Linked DNA regions of Homo sapiens. The protein of the gene in region 4 interacts with the protein of the main gene of each other region in a pairwise test. Each region holds a gene or a part of one and is shown on either strand. Other genes may lie near its edges. The genes, in order: RAB5A, SLC18A1, FITM2 and HTATIP2.

Region 1 (4,756 bases), on a different chromosome or scaffold from region 4:
TTTTAGGAGAAAATATGATGAACAAAGATATTATTATTTTGCTTGAAACCAAATGATTAACTTCCACAAATTTTAACTATCAATGTATCAGAAAGTAGAATGAATACTTCAAACACACAATTTTTCTCACGAATCAAAAACCACATGCTGGTGGTTTGGTCTCTAGGTCTTCTATCCTTTCTCAAAAGCACTTTTAACAATGTGCACATGCAAAAAGGTAAAAGCACATTAAATAAATGCACAGATTATAATTATACAAAGAAGTCATTCTGAAGGCTAACAAGTGAAGGGCAATTGTAGAAAGCTTTCTACTACTGGAAAAACATGAGTTATTTGGATTTAAATTTTCTGGCTAGCTTTTCTGTTTAGGAAGTAACTTTATTCCCCCCAGCTTTATTAAGGTATTGTTGAAAAATAAAAATCGTTATGTATTTACAATATATACATATGTATATTAACATGATGTTTTGATACATGTACACATTGTGAGGTGACTAAATCAAGGTAATTCAATATTGATCACCTCGCCTACTTACCTTTTTTTTTTTTTTTGAGACAGAGTCTCACTCTGTTGCTCAGGCTGGAGTGCAGTGGTGCTATCTCAGCTCACTGCAACCTCCGCGACAGAGTCTCACTCTGTTGCTCAGGCTGGAATGCAGTGGCGCTATCTGGGCTCACTGCAACCTCTGCCTCCCAGGTTCAAGCAATACTCATGCCTCAGCCTCCCGAGTAGCTGGAATTACAGGCATGCGCGACCACGCCCAGCTAATGTTTGCTTTTTTTTTTTTTTTTAGTAAGGATGGGGTTTGGCCATGTTGGCCAGGCTGGTCTCAAGCGATCTGACCACTTTGGCCTCCCAAAGTGTTGGGATTACAGGCATGAGCCATGCACCCGGCACTTACTATTTTTTAATGGTGAGGACATTTAAGAATTTAGCAGTTTTCAAGTACACATTATTAAGTAGTTACTGGAAAAAACTTTAATATATGCACACGTGTAGTACTTTAGCCCTGTAATTTCTCCCTCTGAGAAACTTCCACAAATAACACAGTTGGGCTGGGCACAGTGGCTTACACCTTTCATCCCAGCACCTTGGGAGGCTGAGGTGGGAGGACTGCTGTAGCCCAGGAGTTTGAGACCAGCTTAGGCACCAACAGTGAGATCTGTCCCTACAAAAAAATAAAAAATTAGCCAAGTGTGGGGTGCATGCCTATAGTCAGTCCCAGCTACCTGGGAGGACCACTTGAGGCCACGTCAAGGCTGCAGTGAGCTTTGATGCCACCACTGTACACCAGCCTGGGCAACAGAGCAGGCTGTTTAAAAAAAAAAAAAAAAAGGAAAAAAAACACAAAATTTTTCAAATCTTCAAATTTTCTAAATCAAACGCTATGCACTAGGTGTAACAGCTACCATCTCAAGATAATAGTATGTCATGACCAAACAACAAAAATATCAACAATGACAAAACGATTCAGCCAAAAGTTAACAGTGGTGATGGTAACTGTAATAGCTATAATTTAATAAACCTTTTACTGTGCCAGGCATTGTGGTAAAAACTTCAATCTGGATACAGTCTCTCTTAACCACAATAGTTTATTCTTTAGAATGACTTGGCCATAAATTGTTAGGTAAAATAGTATGTTAATAATAACTTTGAAATAAGCCTTGTTTTTCTTCATTTTAACAGTAACTTTTATTCCTGTTACAGGTTGTTTTAGACTAAAAACAACTAGTTGGCCATGCTAACCAATTTAGATGGATGTTAAATATGTAAGTAGAAACAGCACTTCACTTAAGAGTTAATAATTGCACTAAATTTCCTTTTTTTTGAGACGGAGTCTCGCCCTGTCGCCCAGGCTGGAGTGCAATGGCGCGATCTCGGCTCACTGCAACCTCCGCTTCCTGGGTTCAAATGTTTCTCCTGCCTCAGCATCCTGAGTAGCTGGGGTTATAGGCACCCACCACCACGCCTAGCTAATTCTGGTATTTTTACCATGTTGGCCAGGCTGGTCTCGAACTCCTGACCTCGTGATCTGCCAGTGTGCTGGCACCCTCCCAAAGTGCTGGGATTACAGGCATGAGCCACTGCGCCCGGCCTACACTAAATTTCTTAATTAATTTTGTGTATTATCAGGCCTTGATCATTTGTGACAAGAAAGGAGAGCAGCAGTGGTACAGATGACTGAAAACTATGGGTACTCCCTAAGTAGAGAAAAAGCAGAATACTCTTGATTGGACAGAGGGATCATACTTTCCTAAAGATGTCTGGCAGGTGGCTAACAGGAAGGCATTCTCCTATAAAGAGATACAGATAACATGTAATGTGAGCAGTACATAATACATGTAATTCTCAAACTAGGTTAGTTGCATGAACAATTTTTTTTTTAAGACGGAGTCTCGCTGAGACACCCAGGCTGGAGTGCAATGGCATGATCTCGGCTCATTGCAACAACCTCCTCCGCCTCCTGGGTTCAAGCGAATCTCCTGCCTCAGCCTCCCAAGTAGCTGGGACTACAGGCGCACGCCACCATGCCTGGCTAATTTTTGTATTTTTAGCAGAGACAGGGTTTCATCACATTGGCAAGCTGGTCTCGAACTCCTGACCTCGTGATCCGCCCGCCTCAGCCTCCCAAAGTGTTGGGATTACAGGTATGAGCTACCGCGCCCAGTCAACAATGTTTTTAAAAATCTGACAAACACCACACCTCAAAAAAACCCCCCAATTATTCCATGTATGGGTGAATCAATGTTAGTACCAATGTAAAATCAACTACTCAAACGTAACATGCCATTAGAATCATCTGGAAAACTTATTAAAACCTAGATTGTTGGTCCCACCCAAATGTTTTGATTCAACACGGGATTCTACATTTTAACAAGTTCCTAGTTAATGCAGCTACTTCTGGAAGTGGGAACGCTCTTTGAGGACCACTGTTCTAAGCTAATGTACAAAAATCACAGAACCAGCAAGAGGAATGTTATTTTCATGTACAGTTCCATCATCTAAACTTTAGAGTTTATAACACATTTTTTGATTAGTGCATACAAAATTGTAACTGTGGTATGAAGCACTTTTCTCAGAAGAGAAAAAAAGGATTGTCTGCTTGCTATTTCACTGCATATTCTAACCACTGAGGATTAATTTGTTTATAAATATCACATAAATGTCTTCTTAAAAATAAGTATTTTTTGAGAGTATTTACTGAAGAGCTACCAAGCCTAGAGATGCAGTACCAAGTAAAGAAGGAAGACAACTCTCTGAGCCTACTGCTCCCTGCTAATCTCTGGGCTAACTTTAGACCAACAATAGAAACATAAATGTCATGCAAACTTTAAACCCATACAAACAAGCTAGAATTCTCTAAATTGCTAAATCTACGGCACGCAATTTCATCAGAAGTGCTATAGGGGTAGGATGCATGAAGTATGGTGAGGCAACAGGGATTCTTTGTTTTGTTTTGTTTTTGAGACAGGGTTCTCACTGTCACCCAGGCTGGAGTGTGGTGGTGCAGTCTCGGCTCACTGTAACCTCCGCCTCTTCAGTTCAAGCAATTCTCCCATTTCAGCCTTCTCAGTAGCTGGGACTACAGGTGTGTGCCACCATGCCCGGTTAATTTTCGTATTTTTTGTAAAGACGGGGTTTTGCTATGTTGGCCAGGCTGGTCTCAAACTCCTGGACTCAAGCGATCTGCCCACCTCAGCTTCCCAAAGTGCTGGGATTACAGATGCAAGCCACCGCACACAGCGCAACAGGAATTCGTAAATCAAGTTATTGTATTTAGGAAGAACCACACAAATTACAGAAGAAATCTTGATATTCTTAATGAATCCAGAATCCACAAATCAAGAGTGTAACATATGATATCCACCTTCGAACACAATCAAATAGAGATTAAAATTTTGAGTGCTTCAGAACAATAACTCATGTTAGGAGATATAAACAGTAAAGTGAAAAATTAAACAGTTGAGGCCAGGCGTGGAGGTTCACGCCTATAATTCCAGCACTTTGGGAGGCCGAGGCAGGTGGATCACTTGAGGTCAGGAGTCTGAGACCAGCCTGGCCAAGATGGCAAAACCCTGTCTCTACTAAAAATACAAAAGTTCACTGGGATTGGTGGTGTGGGCCTGTAATCCCAGCTACTCAGGAGGCTGAGGCAGGAGAACTGCCTGAACCTGGGAAGTAGAGGTTGCAGTCAACCTAGATCACACCACTGCACTCCAACCTGGGCCACGTAGTGAAATTCCGTCTCAAAAAAAATAAACCAACAGTTGAAATGCAAAAGAGTTGGTTGGCTTCATTTTTCAGGTAACTTCTACCACATGACAGTCAAAACAAAAATACGTATTACCTACAAGTTATGGCCCTTTCAGGTTGATCATGAAATAGCTCAAACCTTAAAATTCTTAAATGCTTTACATCTACTCTAGTTCCTAAAGGTGAAGAGCTATGAGTACAGAGCATAAAAGAATAGTGTCCACAGCTATAACCATAATGGTACTGTCATACCTCCTGAATAGTATTCACATGGGGTCAGCACAGTGAAAAAGTATCCAATAAAGATTAACAGAAAGTTGGGCCAGGGGCAGTGGCTCATGCCTGTAATCCCAGCACTTGGAGAGCCCGAGGTAGGCAGATCACTTGAGGCCAGGAGTTCAAGACCAACCCGACCGACATGGTGAAACCCCATCTCTACTAAAAATACAAAAATTGGCCAGGAGTGGTGGCTTGCGCCTGTAGTCCCAGCTACTTGGGGGG
Region 2 (4,756 bases), on a different chromosome or scaffold from region 4:
AAAATAATACAAAAAAGAAAATAATACAGTATAACAACTATTTATATAGCATTTCCATTGCATTAGGTGTTACAAGTCATTGAGAAATGATTATAGTACATGGAAGTACGTGTGTAGATTATATGCAAATACGATGCCATTCTATGTAAGGGACTTGAACATCCTTTGAGTTTGGTATCCGTGAGGAGTCCTAGAACCACTCTCCTATGCACACCAAGGGATAATTTACCTACTTTCAAAAATAATGGTGGAACAAAGATAGAACAGGCATTCTTATTTCAAAAGGAAGCAACAGGGAAGAAGAAAGGGGTAACAGGTCCCACGAAAGTCCAAAGCCCAAAACAGAAAACAATATTATGTCTTAAAGCTGGAGAATAATTGCCTTTGACTCCATGTCCAAAATCCTGGGCACACTGGAGTGGAGTTTGGACCCCTAAGGCATCAGGCAGCCCCATGTCTGTGGTCTTTCCGGGCTGAGTCTACCCAGCAGCAATCATGGGTTGGAGTCTTGTGCTTGCAGGCCACCATGCTGGTGCCCCTACAGTTCCGTGATCTTGGAAGTGGCTGTGCATGGCATCTTTTGAAATTTAGGTGGAAGAAGTCATGCACCCATAGCTCTTGCATTCTGCGCACGTGCAAAATTTGCACCACATAGACACCACCAAGGCTTACCACTTGCACCCTCCAGAGTGGGAGGCCAGGCCACATCTGGGCCCACTTGAGCCATGGCTGGCACAGTTGAGGGGCACTGCACTGAAACGCAGAGAGCAGAGTCCCAAGGTGGTCCTGGGCAGTGAGCCCATGGAGGGTGTCCCAGGCTTATTCCCAAACCATTCTGCCCTCCTACATCTCTGGGCCAGTAATGGGAAGCACAGCTTCGAAGGTCTCTAAAATGCCTTTGGGTCTTTCTCCCACAGTCTTAATAAGTGGTGCCTGGCTCACTTTTATCCACACTAATCACTTTAGGTTGCTTGGCCACAGTCTTGGTGTGCTCTCCTAAAGATGCCTTTTCTTTCTTTCCAAGGCCAGGCAGCAAATTTTCCAAGTCTTTCTGTTTTGTTTCTCTTTTAACCATAAATTTCACCTTTAAATCATTTCTTTGCTTTCACATGTCACTATATATGCAGTTAAAACAGCCACAAAGCAGCCTGAAGCTTTGCTGCTTAGATATTTCTTCTGCCAGATATCCTAGTTTATTGCCTCTAAGTTCTTCATTCCATGAAGTCCTAGGTTATGGATACAAGTCTGCCAAGTTTTTTGTAACTGTATAACAAGGATGGCCTTTACTCTAGTGTCCAATACCTTGTTCCTCATTTCTATCTGAGACCTCGTCAGAATGACCTTCACTGTCCATATTTCTATCAACATTCTGGTCACAACCTCTTAACCAATGTCTAAAAAGATTCAGACTTTCTCTATAGCTCTCCTCTTCTTCTGAGCCCTCACCAGAATCACCCTTAATGCCTTAACCACAGCAATACAGGCTCTTTCTAGCCTGCTCCTCCAAATTATTGCAGCCTCTACCAATTTTCCAGTTCCAAAGCTGCTTCCATATTTTCAAGTATTTGTTATAGCAGCAGCCCGGTTTCTCATTACCCATTTTCTGTCTTAGTCCATTTTCTGCTGCTATAATATAACAGAATACCAGAGTGCATGATTTATCAATGAAAGAGATTTATTTGGCTCAGGGTTCTGGAGGTTAAGAAGTTCAAAGGCAAGCCTCTAGTGTCTGTTTGGCCACCTGGGGAGTGCCTGGTTGCTGGATCATAACATGGCCAAAGGGGGTCACATGGAGAGAGAGCACACATGAGAGAGATGTAAAGGGAGCTGAACTCCCCTTTTATTATGACAAACTCACTCCCATGATAATGGCCTTAATCCATTCATGAGGGTGCTCCCATGATCTCATCATCTCTCAAAGGTCCCACTTCTCAAGACTGTTGCACTGGGGATTCAATTTGCAACATATAAATTTTGGGGGACACATTCACACCATATCAGAGGTCAAAGAGGTTAAATAACTTATCCGAGGTCACAATCAGTAAGTGACGTGGTCAGCATTCAAACCCAGGTGGACCTGGGCTATTTCCTCCCCTTGGTGATGCTACCTAGTATATGGTGGGCCACATAGCAAGCACTCAGAGGCAGACTACACATTACTTTCAAAAGCATGGACTCCTTTGGCTCCCAACACCTTTGAGGGATGCTCTTCATGTACAGCAGCGATTTTCTAGGTGTGATCACTGACCAGCTATATTAGCATCACCTGCAGACTTACTAGGGATGAAAACTTGTTTTGACTAAATTGCCTACTGTCTCCCAGCAATCAGAGTTTTAACAAGCTCTCTAGGTGATTCTGATGTAGTTGTTGGACAACCTTTGATGTCAGACTTTACAGACCAGATAGCATTGAGAAAGCTGTAAAAGATGGTGGCAACTGAGTGACTGGTAACTGAGTAATTGGTAACTGGCAACTGAGAATGGTCCCTAGGCTGCTGGGGAGGAGCTGCTCTGTGTTGTAGCTGCTCACTAGTATCGAGACCCTGAGTGGTCAGAGCCTTAGGGCAGGCGATGAATTATCTGCACTGAATACCGACTAACTCAATTAATCGTCATGGTCAAAAGCACTTGCAACCCATAAAAATTCAATTTGGCACTAGGAGTGCAGCTGGGAGTCTTGCTTAGAATTGCCCCCCCAAAATTAGATTTAGTGCTTTTTATTGCATGCTGAACTATATCATGTTCTTATCAGCTTCCCCTCTGGCCCCGTAAGCCTCTCCTCCCTGCAGTGATGGAGCAATTTGCACGTAGCCTTCCCTGTCCTCTTTCCTCAGGGTTCCTGGGAAGGGCTAGATCCTCCTCTCCAAGCTCCTCTCTAAGTCGCTGCATGAACAAAGGAAGCTGGAACCCTCTCTCCTGGGCCCATAGCTTTTCCTAAGTGAGTGCTACATACACCCCTTTTTAGAGGTAAAAAAGATAACCAAAGGGTAGTCTTGAGGATGAGGAGCTGAAGGGAGGAGAATGTGGATGGTAATGGTGCACATTAATATTGTACAGGGTACAAAGCATTTTCACCTCATATGTCATTTATTCATCCAATTTCTCTTGAACTAGATAGTATTTTGATGCTCATTTTAGCAATGAGAAAAGTGATGCTCAGAGGGTTTAAGGCATCTGCACAAGTTTTCACAGAAAATCAAAGGAGCTGAAACCAAAACCTGAATCTTTGGACTGGAAATCATTAATCATCCTACTACACAGCTAGGTATGTGACCTCTCCATAGCCCCTTTCATCCTCTCTCACCCTCCCCTTTCTCAGACTGCTTCTCTGAGGGACCACACACCCTCTTGGGCTTGATTCATGGGTGTGGACGTGGGAGGTCATTCTACAAAGGAAGCATGTTGTCCCTGTGTGACATTGAACGAAAGGACTCATGGCACCCACCTCCTCCTGCCAGGCCCTGAGCGGGGGTGCTGAGGTCACTTACCCAGCTGCCACTTGGGGGAGCACATGGTCTGCATCATCCAGATGGGCAGTGTGGGCTCCAGGATGGCCACCCCCATGTTGGCAAAGCAGATGGACCCTGGGGAGACTGTTCTGTGAGCAGCCGTGGCTGCTTGAAGCCCAGACACTCCCCGCCCAATGGGAGGTCATCGCCAGCTTACCTGCAGCCACCAGGATGTAAGGGTCTTTGAGAAGCATAAAGAGGGGAGTCCCCTTGGCACTCTGAGAACATGGATAACAAAAAATGTCCATTTGTACAGTGCATACATCTCTCCTATTTTCACAGAATCTGAGAAAGTACAATTATGGGCTTAGAGACCATCTACAGTATCTCCTTTACTGCAGAGACCAGGAACCCCAGTACAGGGAGAGAAAGTGACTTGTCTGATGCCACAGAGGAAGCTGGAGGCAGGACCCCTCCTGTGTGAAAGGTAGGCACTGTAATAGTCACAGATAGAGAAGCAACATATTCCAGCCATGGTTCCTGCGTTCACGTGACCATCAACAAGGTCAGAGTGGATTGGTAGCAAGGTCAGGGTTGGACAATAGATGTCTGGACTCCTGGTTTCCACTAGATCTCCCTGGTACTAATATTTGTCCTGGGAGAACCACAGGCAGAGCACCGAATCCCAAAAGCAAGCACAGAAGCCATAACTCAGAAAGCCTCTCAAGCTTTCTGAATTCTTCATTCTGATCATTTTGAGCCACACTGAACTAAGGTAGAAGAAGCAGGGTTAAAATACAGCCTAAACATCCAGGACCCACTCTCGTCAGGACACACTCTCATCTAAACTTGGTCGCCCCACCCTCTTTCCAAGCATCCCAGCAGTGCCTCAGCCATCATTATTGCCTTTGCCTAAACTACACGTTCTGAGCTTCTCCATAGTTCCATGTTCTACCCACTCTTTAAAGTCAAGCTTAAATGGCTCCTTCTTTTCTAGAGAGCTCCCTGACTCAGTAGCTGGGGCTTCTCTCTCTTCCAGACATCCTGAACACTATGTCCTAATCCTTCATGGTGTTTACTACTTTCTATCTTGTAATAGATTGGATCATTTTGGTATGATAACCCTCTCTGCACACACACAATAGTGGATTGATAAATTTAGAGATCCTAAAACTAAAGAGATCATTCGCTTACCCAATTATTATTCGAAGTAAAGAAACTGATGTAAATCATTAAAATATACATTTAAAAGTACAATAAACCCTTTGACCCAACAGTCCCACTTCTAGGAATTGACTCTAAAGATT
Region 3 (4,187 bases), on a different chromosome or scaffold from region 4:
CAGTCTATACCACTGATATGTGGTCAGGGACATTTCGGTGCAAGAACGCATTCTGCAAAATTACCTTGATTCACCTTAAAATTCAACAGGCTGTTACTAAAATGCCTGCTTTCTGGTTTGATTATCTTATTTATTTATAGAAACCAGGGTCTCACTATGTTGCCCAGGCTGGTCTCAAACTCCTGGGATCCAGTAATCCTCCCACCTCAGCCTCCCAAAGTGCCAGGATTATAGGTGTGAGCCACTACACCTGGCCCAGGTTTCATTGCTAACAGAGAAAACAGCCCCATGAGGTGGAATTTAAGACTGTAAGACCAGAGTTTGGTTCATAACAAGTACATTAGTGTTCTAAACCAACCAACCAATCAACCAGCCAACCAACCAACCAACAAACCCTCAAAACAACCTACATGTGCCAGAGTGCAGCACTGGCCTTGTGAGTTATTTTCAGGAGTTTTATCAACAAAGAACAAATGTCACAGTTCTTATCAAAAACTGTAAAGGATTCGCTCAAAATAGAACAGAAAAAAAGTAATCTTATTGCTCCAAAAAAACCAGCATATAGTAATAGAAAACATGGACAGAAAATGATCATAGTCCATTACGTATGAATCATCCAATACTTGGTCGGAGAGGCACTGCATCTAAAAGGGCCTGTTTTGGTGGCTAATCGCAAGTCAGTTGCAATATTTAAACACTTCATGGATGAAACAAATATTACAACCAGAGAGTGTCCTTCAGGCATCAGGCTGTTTTTATAAAGAACCCTGCCTGAGCCGGGCGCGGTGGCTCATGCCTGTAATCCCAGCACTTTGGGAGGCCGAGGCAGGTGGATCACCTGCGGTCAGGAGTTTGAGACCAGCCTGACCAACATGGAGAAACCCCATCTCTACTAAAAATACAAAATTAGCCTGGTGTGGTGACGCATGCCTGTAATCCCAGCTACTCGGGAGGCTGAGGCAGGAGAATCGCTTGAACCTGGGAGGTGGAGGTTGCGGTGAGCCGAGATCGGGCCATTGCACCCCAGCCTGGGCAACAAGAGCAAAACTCCATCTCAAAAAAAAGAAAAAAACCCTGCCTGAAATAGATGCCTATGCAAAACTGACCAGTGGGAAATACTGTTTTGTTTTGTTTTTTCTTTTTTGAGGTGGAGTCTGCTCTGTCACCCAGGCTGGAGTGCAGTGGTGCGATCTCAGCTCACTGCAACCTCCACCTCCTAGGTCCAAGCAATTCTCCTGCCTCAGCCTCCTGAGTAGCTGGGATTACAGGCATGTGCCACCACACCCAGCTAATTTTTGTATTTTTAGAAGAGACGAGGTTCGCCATGTTGGACAGGCTGGTCTCGAACTCCCAATCTCAGGTGATCCGCCTGCCTCGGCCTCCCAAAGTGCAGGGATTAGAGGTGTGAACCACCATGCCTGGCTGGAAAATACTGTTAAGTAACAGCAGTAAGAGCCGTGAAAATCTAAAGACAACTGGAACCAGGGAGAAGGCAGCAAAGGAGTCCCAAGGCTCTGGCCACTCCTTTAGCCACACCATAAAGGCTTTCCTGATTCTGCCCTTTTGCTGAGCCTTAGGTCCCCACTCTAGGGACAAAAGGAGTGTTCCAGATAAAGGTCAAGTCTTACCAGGGACAAAAAGTGCCTAACTGGGAATGGTGGTGCTTGCAACACTGGTGATGTCGCCAAGAATAGTCTGAAGACTAAACTCACTCCCCAGACTTCAGCACCACCCACCAAAACTGCCTGGTACACTTTCCCTCTGAAGTAGGATCAATAATTTAGCCAAATAACTAAGCAAAATATATATTTGAAAAATAGATTAGCCATTGTCCTTCTGTCCCCCCTCTGTTACTCTTTTATTTCTTGTAACTATCTTGCTTCAAATTCAAACTACAGCTCTGGGGAGGAAGTCCTGGGGAAAAGGCTTTCGGATACCAAAACCCGTATGTCCCGTACCAGCTCAGCAAACCAAACAAGGTGCCAAACACCTTCTGGGACAAGTTGTGGAAATAAACAGCTGTGCACAGAAACATCAACACCCAGATGAAAGTCAGAATGCCCAGGGCCACAACCAGGGTGGTGATGGCGGTGTGGAGGCAGTGGCTTCGGTCCGTCTTCACCTCATGCAGCACAGACATCTCTTCTACAATCATGAGGGCGCAGAAGGTCAGCAGGAAGGAGTGACCTGAGATGTCAAAGCCATGCCAAAAGCCCCCTTCCTGGTGGCACTGCTGCTTGCTCTGGTGTTCCTTTCTGACCCCCTCCAGGGCTGGGGACTGGTAGCAGCTGCCCGTGTAGTGTTCGATGTTGGAGAAGATGGAGGTGCAGATGTACCAGATGGCCGTGCCCACAAGCAGGGTGCTCAGCCGCCGCAGGACCAAGCCAGCCTTGCCGGTCAGATGGTAGTTGGTGAGGGCAATGAAAGGCAGAAGGAGACAGAACGTCCAGGCCCAGGCCACTTTGACAAAATACCTGACAGAGGAGGAAAGTGGAAGTGAAGAGAGGGAACACGGTGGAGAGGACACCATGTCAGGACTCAGGTCTCTACACTGTCAGGGGAGGGAAAATGAGAAAACTGATCAAAGCTACAGCTCATAGCAACTATCATGTTTTAGGTACTTACCATATACTTCACTTACTAAGTACTTTATTTATTTATTTATTTATTTATTTTTGAGACAGAGTCTCGCTCTGTCACTCGGGCTGGAGTGCAGTGGCGCAATCTCAGCTCACTGCAACCTCCGCCTCCCGGGTTCAAGCAATCCTCCTGCCTCAGCCTCCCAAGTAGCTGGGATTACAGGTGCGCATCACCCCGCCTGGCTAATTTTTGTATTTTTAGTAGAGAGGGGGTTTTACCATGTTGGCCAGGCTGGTCTCGAACTCCTGGCCTCAAATGCTCCGGCCACCTTGGCCTCCCAAAGTCCTGGGATTACAGGCATGAGCCACTGTGCCCAGCCCTCCCCTCCTCCCCTACCCCACCCCTGTGTAAGTACTTTAAATGTATTAACCAGGTAATCCATTAACAACTCTATGAGTTGGCCGGGCGCGGTGGCTCACGCCTGTAATCCCAGCAGTTTGGGAGGCCGAGGTGGGCAGATCACGAGGTCAGGAGATCGAGACCATCCTGGCTAACATGGTGAAACCCTGTCTCTACCAAAAATACAAAAAATTAGCCAGGCGTGGTGGCGGGCGCCTGTAGTCCCAACTACTCGGGAGGCTGAGGCAGGAGAATGGCATGAACCCGGGAGGCGGAGCTTGCAGTGAGCCGAGATTGTGCCACTGCACTCCAGCCTGGGCGATAGAGCGAGACTCCATCTCAAAAACAAAACAAAACAAACGAAAAAAAACAACTCTATGAGTTAAGTACTGTTAATATCTGCCTTTAACAGAGAAGAAAACTGAGACAGAGGGAAGTGCCACACCAAAAGTGGAGGCCAGAAGCGGAGGAGCCAGGATTCAAATCCAGGATCTGTCGTCTTAAGCACTATGTTATTTACTTAGGAAAATAATATAAATAAATAATAATAACTGAGCATTTACCAAATGCCAGGAGCTTTCACACACATTCACTTTCCCATAGAGCACTCACATTTACCCTGGGAGGAAGGTGCCATTGTTCCATTTTATAGACAAGAAATCTAAGGCTCAGAAAAGTTCAGTACCTTGCCAGGGTCACACTCACACAACCAGCATGAACAGATTAAACCACGGTTTGGATAGCCCCCAGACTCATGCTGTTTCTCCCATACCATATGTGGTTTTTTATTTTTTATTTTTATTTTTCTGAGACAGGATCTCACTCTGTCCCCCAGGCTTGCGTGCAGTGGCACAATCACACCTCACTGCAGCCTCAAACTCCTGGGCTCAAGCAATCCTCCTGCCTCAGCCTCACAAATAGCTGGGATTACAGGTGTGTACCAATGTGCCTGGCTAATTTTTTTTAATTATTATTTTTGTGGAGATGGGGCCTTGCTATGTTGCCCCCACTGGTCTTGAACTCCAGGCCTCAAGCAATTATCCTGCCTCAGCCTCCCAAAGTGCTGGGATTATAGATATGAGCCATGCACCTGGCCTGGTTCTTTCCTAATGGCAGAAACAGTCTTACAACAATGAGCTTTACTTTAAGCCAAAGACACGGGTTCAACTCTTGACTCTGACTTAACTTATTATACCTCCTACCTCTCC
Region 4 (4,756 bases):
TGTATTGCTTGGACACATTTTATTTAGATCTCCATCCTTCTAGGCCTCCCAGCCTGCTACCCAAGCCAAGTAGTAATCTTTAAGATGAACTTGCTGCTTTTTGGAAATAACTCATGTCCTTTTCCCCCTTAGGAGGGATTTGTTCGTGTTGACCGAGATTATGTGCTGAAGTCTGCAGAGCTGGCAAAAGCTGGAGGGTGCAAACATTTCAACTTGCTATCCTCTAAAGGAGCTGATAAATCAAGCAATTTTTTATATCTACAAGTTAAGGTTTGTGCAAGTTTCTGTTTTTCATACACTTTGGAGAACCCTAGCTATTTGGCAGTACTAAAGAATATAAAATATTATATAATACAAAAACCATCAAATGCATCATATTATGCATTTGTATGGCTACGGGACTGCAGGAATATATTTAGTAAACAGGAATGATTGGAAAGGTAATTTCCAATGTCTTCCTCTCTATTAATTATCCAGCAACAAATGGAATGAGATATGGCATCTCCAGCCTTGACTGTCAGCATGGCAGCTTAGCATTGGAAGAGACTTGGAGGCAGTGATTCTTAAACTTTTCCGTCAGTCTCCCTAATGACTGAGCGGAAAGAAGAGCTTTTATTTGTGTAGAGATTTGGAGAAATCTATCCTGAAGCAGTATTCTAGTTACAGACTCAACTTTCTTTTCTTTTTTTTTTTTTTGAGACAGGTTCCCAGGCTGGAGTGCAGTGGCATGATCTTGGCTCGCTGCAGCCTCTGCCCCGCCAAGTAACTGGGACTAGAGGCATGAGCCACCATGCCTGGCTAATTTTTGTATTTTTGGTAGAGATGGGGTTTTGCCATGTTGCCCAGGCTGGTCTCAAACTCCTGAGTTCAAATGATCAGCCCATCTCAGCCTCCCAAAGTGCTGGGATTACAGGTGTGAGCCACTGCGTCTGGCCTCAACTTTCTTAAAAGTCTTAACGTTTTATCTTTTAAAAATTTATGCACATTTTGCTATTCTTAGTACTATACATATCCCTGTTTATTTTAATTTAAAAGGTTTCTATTAACTTACCTTTCAGTTAAATTGATGCTGTTGGAAGATAGGCATGGCTTTGTCTTTGTGTGCCTCCCTTTGCACCCCAGGTGCCCACAGTTTAAGCAGCAGAGCCACAGAGGTCATTCAGCCATAGACTTTTCCTATGTGAAGTCCTTTTACAGAAGTTCATCTCCTTTCTGCTTAAATATCTCCAGCACTACAGAGATTACTATCTCGTTAGCCAACTTTTTCTATTTTGGGTCAGATCTACTTGTCCAAAAGTCTTTACCTTGAAGTGAAATTTATTGTTATGTAAATACAAATTGTTATCAGTTCTGCCTTTTAAAATAACAAAAATACGTCCAGTCTTTCTTTTGCATTGTAGTTTTTAAGACATTTGGAGATTATGACCCCCTTAATTGTATGTTTCCCAGGCATAACACCTTTAAATCCTTGCACCATTCTTTATGGGTTCCTGTGTCTAGCTCCTTCATGACTGCATCACTTTGCTAAGGGTGAACTTTGCAGTGATATTATACTGGAACTGCACTGGGAGTACTATTCATGCTCCGAACACTATGTTTTTTTAAAAAAATAGGATATAAGATTGTTACTATTTTACCAAACATCCTTATTATGTTGTTGGCTCATGATCAGCCTGTAATATTAAAAATTTCCAGATTTTTTTCACATGGCTTATAGCTGAGCCATATCTCACCTATCCTAAAATAGTATTTTGAACCAGATGAAGATCAGTGAGCCACCAATGAAATTACATGAAGAATGGAAAAGTTTCCACTTAATTGTCAGAGTTTAGAACAATTCTTAAAAGGAAAAAATCTGTTTTCCTTTTTTTTTAGAGTCAAAGTCTTGCTCTGTCACCCAGGTTGAAGTGCAGTGGTGCGGTCACAGCTCACTACAACCTCAGATTCCTGGGCTCAAACAATCTCCAGCCTCAACCTCCTGAGCAGCTGGGACTACAGGCATGAGGGATCAGGCCCAACTTGTTTTTTAAAACACTGACACATGTGGGTTCTGAGAAAGGTTATCAAATAGGATTTTTGCTCTCATTAGCAAGATCAACATTTATACCTTTTAGGAAAGAAAATATACATAAGATATTTCCTCATTGTTAAAGATAAAGGCGTTACTACTGACTCACTGGGTTATAATAATGATTTAACCAGATTTTTAAAAAAATAGCTAACACTAAATGAGCCAGGCAGTATTCTGAGGGCTTTTATGTGCATTTGCGTGGAAACAGGTACTGTGATATTAAGACCACCAGCTGTTGGCTGGGCACGGTGGCTCACGCCTGTAATTCTAGCACTTTGGGAGGCCGAGGTGGGAAGATCACTTGAGGCTGGGAGTTTGAAACCAGCCTGGGAAACGTGGCAAAACCCTGTCTGTACTAAAAATACAAAAATTAACTGGCACAGTGGTGTATGCCTGTAATCCCAGCTACTCGGGAGGCTGAGGCAGGAGAATTGCATGAACCCGGGAAGCAGAGGCTGCAGTGAGCCAAGATCACATCACTGCACTCCAGCTTGGGGACAGAGTGAGACTCTGTCTCAAAAACAAAACAAAACAAAACAAACAACAACAACAACAACAACAACAAAAACACCAGCTGTTAAGCGGCAAAGCTAGAGCTTGAACCCAGGCTGATTCCAAGGCCTATGCCACTAGCTATTAAGTAATGAATAGCCTTTGTCACTAATACATGCAAAAGGGACCCAGCAGAGATTGGACCGTGACAGAGCCTCAGCAAATATTAAGGCCAATACAACGGAAAGACACTTCTGATTTCACTGCAATTGGCCTGCATTACCTGCAGCCTGGGATTATGAATTAGATTAATAAAGGACAGAAATGACAACCAAATGATCCAACCCAGAATGACGCTGAACAATATATAATTGCTTTTACAATTTGGAAAGATTATCTTTCCAAAATAATCCTTCAACTACTGTGTGTAACATTCCTAGTATTTATTGCCTATTTTCTCAGCCTCCATGTGTGTATGAACTCCCCCGCCCCACCCAATTTTAGAAACTCCTTTATTGTTTAGGAACATTTATTCTACTCAATGAAGTTTCAATTGCATTCATTCATGGTGGGCCAGCTCTGGGGGCTTGGATCAATCATGTGCTTTATGGGCATTCTGCTGGTGCCGTGGGGAGACGTGTCAGGATGTGGAGCCCAGAGTACTGGATGGGCCTCATGTCCTCTGTTCTCAGGGTTTATAAGCTTTGGTTTCCTCATCTATTCAGGGTGAAGGTATACTTTCCAGACATGTGACATTTTATTATTGGGTATCATCCTTGACCTCAAGGAGTTTATAATCTGCTTGTATTGAGGGATCCTCAAAGACACCCCCAAGTTTGGTAATTCACTAGAAGGTTTCATAGGACTCAGCATATAGTCATACTCACAGCTACAACTTATCGCATTGAAAGGATATAGAGCAAAATCAGCAAAGGGAAAAGGTGTGTCGGGTGAAGTCTGGAGGAAAGTAGGTACAAGCTTCCAAGAGGCCTCTCCCCATAGAGCTTGCACAGGATGTGCTTAATGTCTCCAGCGATGAACGTTTTCTGCCAGAGAAACTCATCTGAGCCTAGGAATGCAGGGTTTTTATGGGAGCCAGTTACATAGGCACATTGGCCTAGCCAAATTGCAGCCCTCCAGAAGAAAGGCAAGTTTTCAGCATAAACCACATTGTTTGTACAGACAGTTTAGGCATAGTACATGACCCTTATCAGATAGGGAATGGTGGGAACACACCGAAAATCCAAGGTTGCAAGCACAAGCCAGGGGCCAAACTTGTAACAGGCCTTTCTAAGGATAGCAGTCTCAGCCTGCTATGGTATCTCTTTTATGCACACTGCTAATAGAGACAAAACAAATCTTTTAAAAAGCTAAGAAATGGGCTGGGCGCGGTGGCTCACGCCTGTAATCCCAGCGCTTTGGGAGGCCGAGGCGGGCGGATCACGAGGTCAGGAGATTGAGACCATCCTGGCTAACACGGTGAAACCCCGTCTCTACTAAAAATACAAAAAATTAGCCGGGCGTGATGGCAGGTGCCTGTAGTCCCAGCTGCTCGGGAGGCTGAGGCAGGAGAACGGCATGAACCCGGGAGGCGGAGCTTGCAGTGAGCTGAGATTGCGCCACTGCACTCCAGCCTGGGCGACAGAGTGAGACTCCATCTCAAAAAAAAAAAAAAAAAAAAGCTAAGAAATGTGTGTACACATAAAATCTTGTGTATGACTGTTCATAGCAGCATTATTTATAATGGCCAAAGAGTGGGAACAACCTAGATAGCCATCGACTGATGAATAGATGAATAAAATGTGATATATTCATGCAATAGAATATTATTCAGCTATAAAAAGAAATGATACATACTACAACATGGGTGAACCTTGAAAATATTATGCTAAGTGTGAGGAGACAGTCACAAAAGACCACGAATTATATGATTTCATTTATATGAAATGTCCAGAATAGGCAAATCTATAGAGATAGAAGGTACATTAGTGGTTGACTAGGTCCCCAGAGGGTAGGGTACGAGGAGTGACTGCTAATGATATGGGATTTCTTTTCAGGGTGATGAAATATTTTAAAACTTAGATCGTGATGAAGGTTACAGAGTTCTGTGTATATACTAAAAACCACCTATTAAAAAAAAAAGAATGGCCAAGCGCGGTGGCTCTCGCCTGTAATCCCAGCACTTTGGGAGGC

The links.
Region 1: the proteins of HTATIP2 (region 4) and RAB5A interact in a protein complementation assay, tested with the Homo sapiens proteins (one study listed by BioGRID).
Region 2: the proteins of HTATIP2 (region 4) and SLC18A1 interact in a two-hybrid assay, tested with the Homo sapiens proteins (one large-scale study listed by BioGRID).
Region 3: the proteins of HTATIP2 (region 4) and FITM2 interact in binary tests that used the Homo sapiens proteins (3 or more experiments, as listed by UniProt).

The regions. Positions count from the first base shown.
Region 1 is NC_000003.12:19,953,527-19,958,282, reverse strand, and holds part of RAB5A (ras-related protein Rab-5A), read right to left. Parts: intron 1-4,756. UniProt on the Homo sapiens protein: The small GTPases Rab are key regulators of intracellular membrane trafficking, from the formation of transport vesicles to their fusion with membranes.
Region 2 is NC_000008.11:20,161,381-20,166,136, forward strand, and holds part of SLC18A1 (chromaffin granule amine transporter), read right to left. Parts: intron 3,728-4,756; coding exon 3,667-3,727; intron 3,585-3,666; coding exon 3,489-3,584; intron 1-3,488.
Region 3 is NC_000020.11:44,304,767-44,308,953, forward strand, and holds part of FITM2 (acyl-coenzyme A diphosphatase FITM2), read right to left. Parts: intron 2,475-4,187; coding exon 1,859-2,474; 3' UTR 1-1,858. UniProt on the Homo sapiens protein: Fatty acyl-coenzyme A (CoA) diphosphatase that hydrolyzes fatty acyl-CoA to yield acyl-4'-phosphopantetheine and adenosine 3',5'-bisphosphate.
Region 4 is NC_000011.10:20,376,448-20,381,203, forward strand, and holds part of HTATIP2 (protein HTATIP2), read left to right. Parts: intron 1-132; coding exon 133-270; intron 271-4,756. UniProt on the Homo sapiens protein: Represses translation by preventing reactivation of elongation factor eEF1A. May also inhibit nuclear import by competing with nuclear import substrates for binding to a subset of nuclear transport receptors.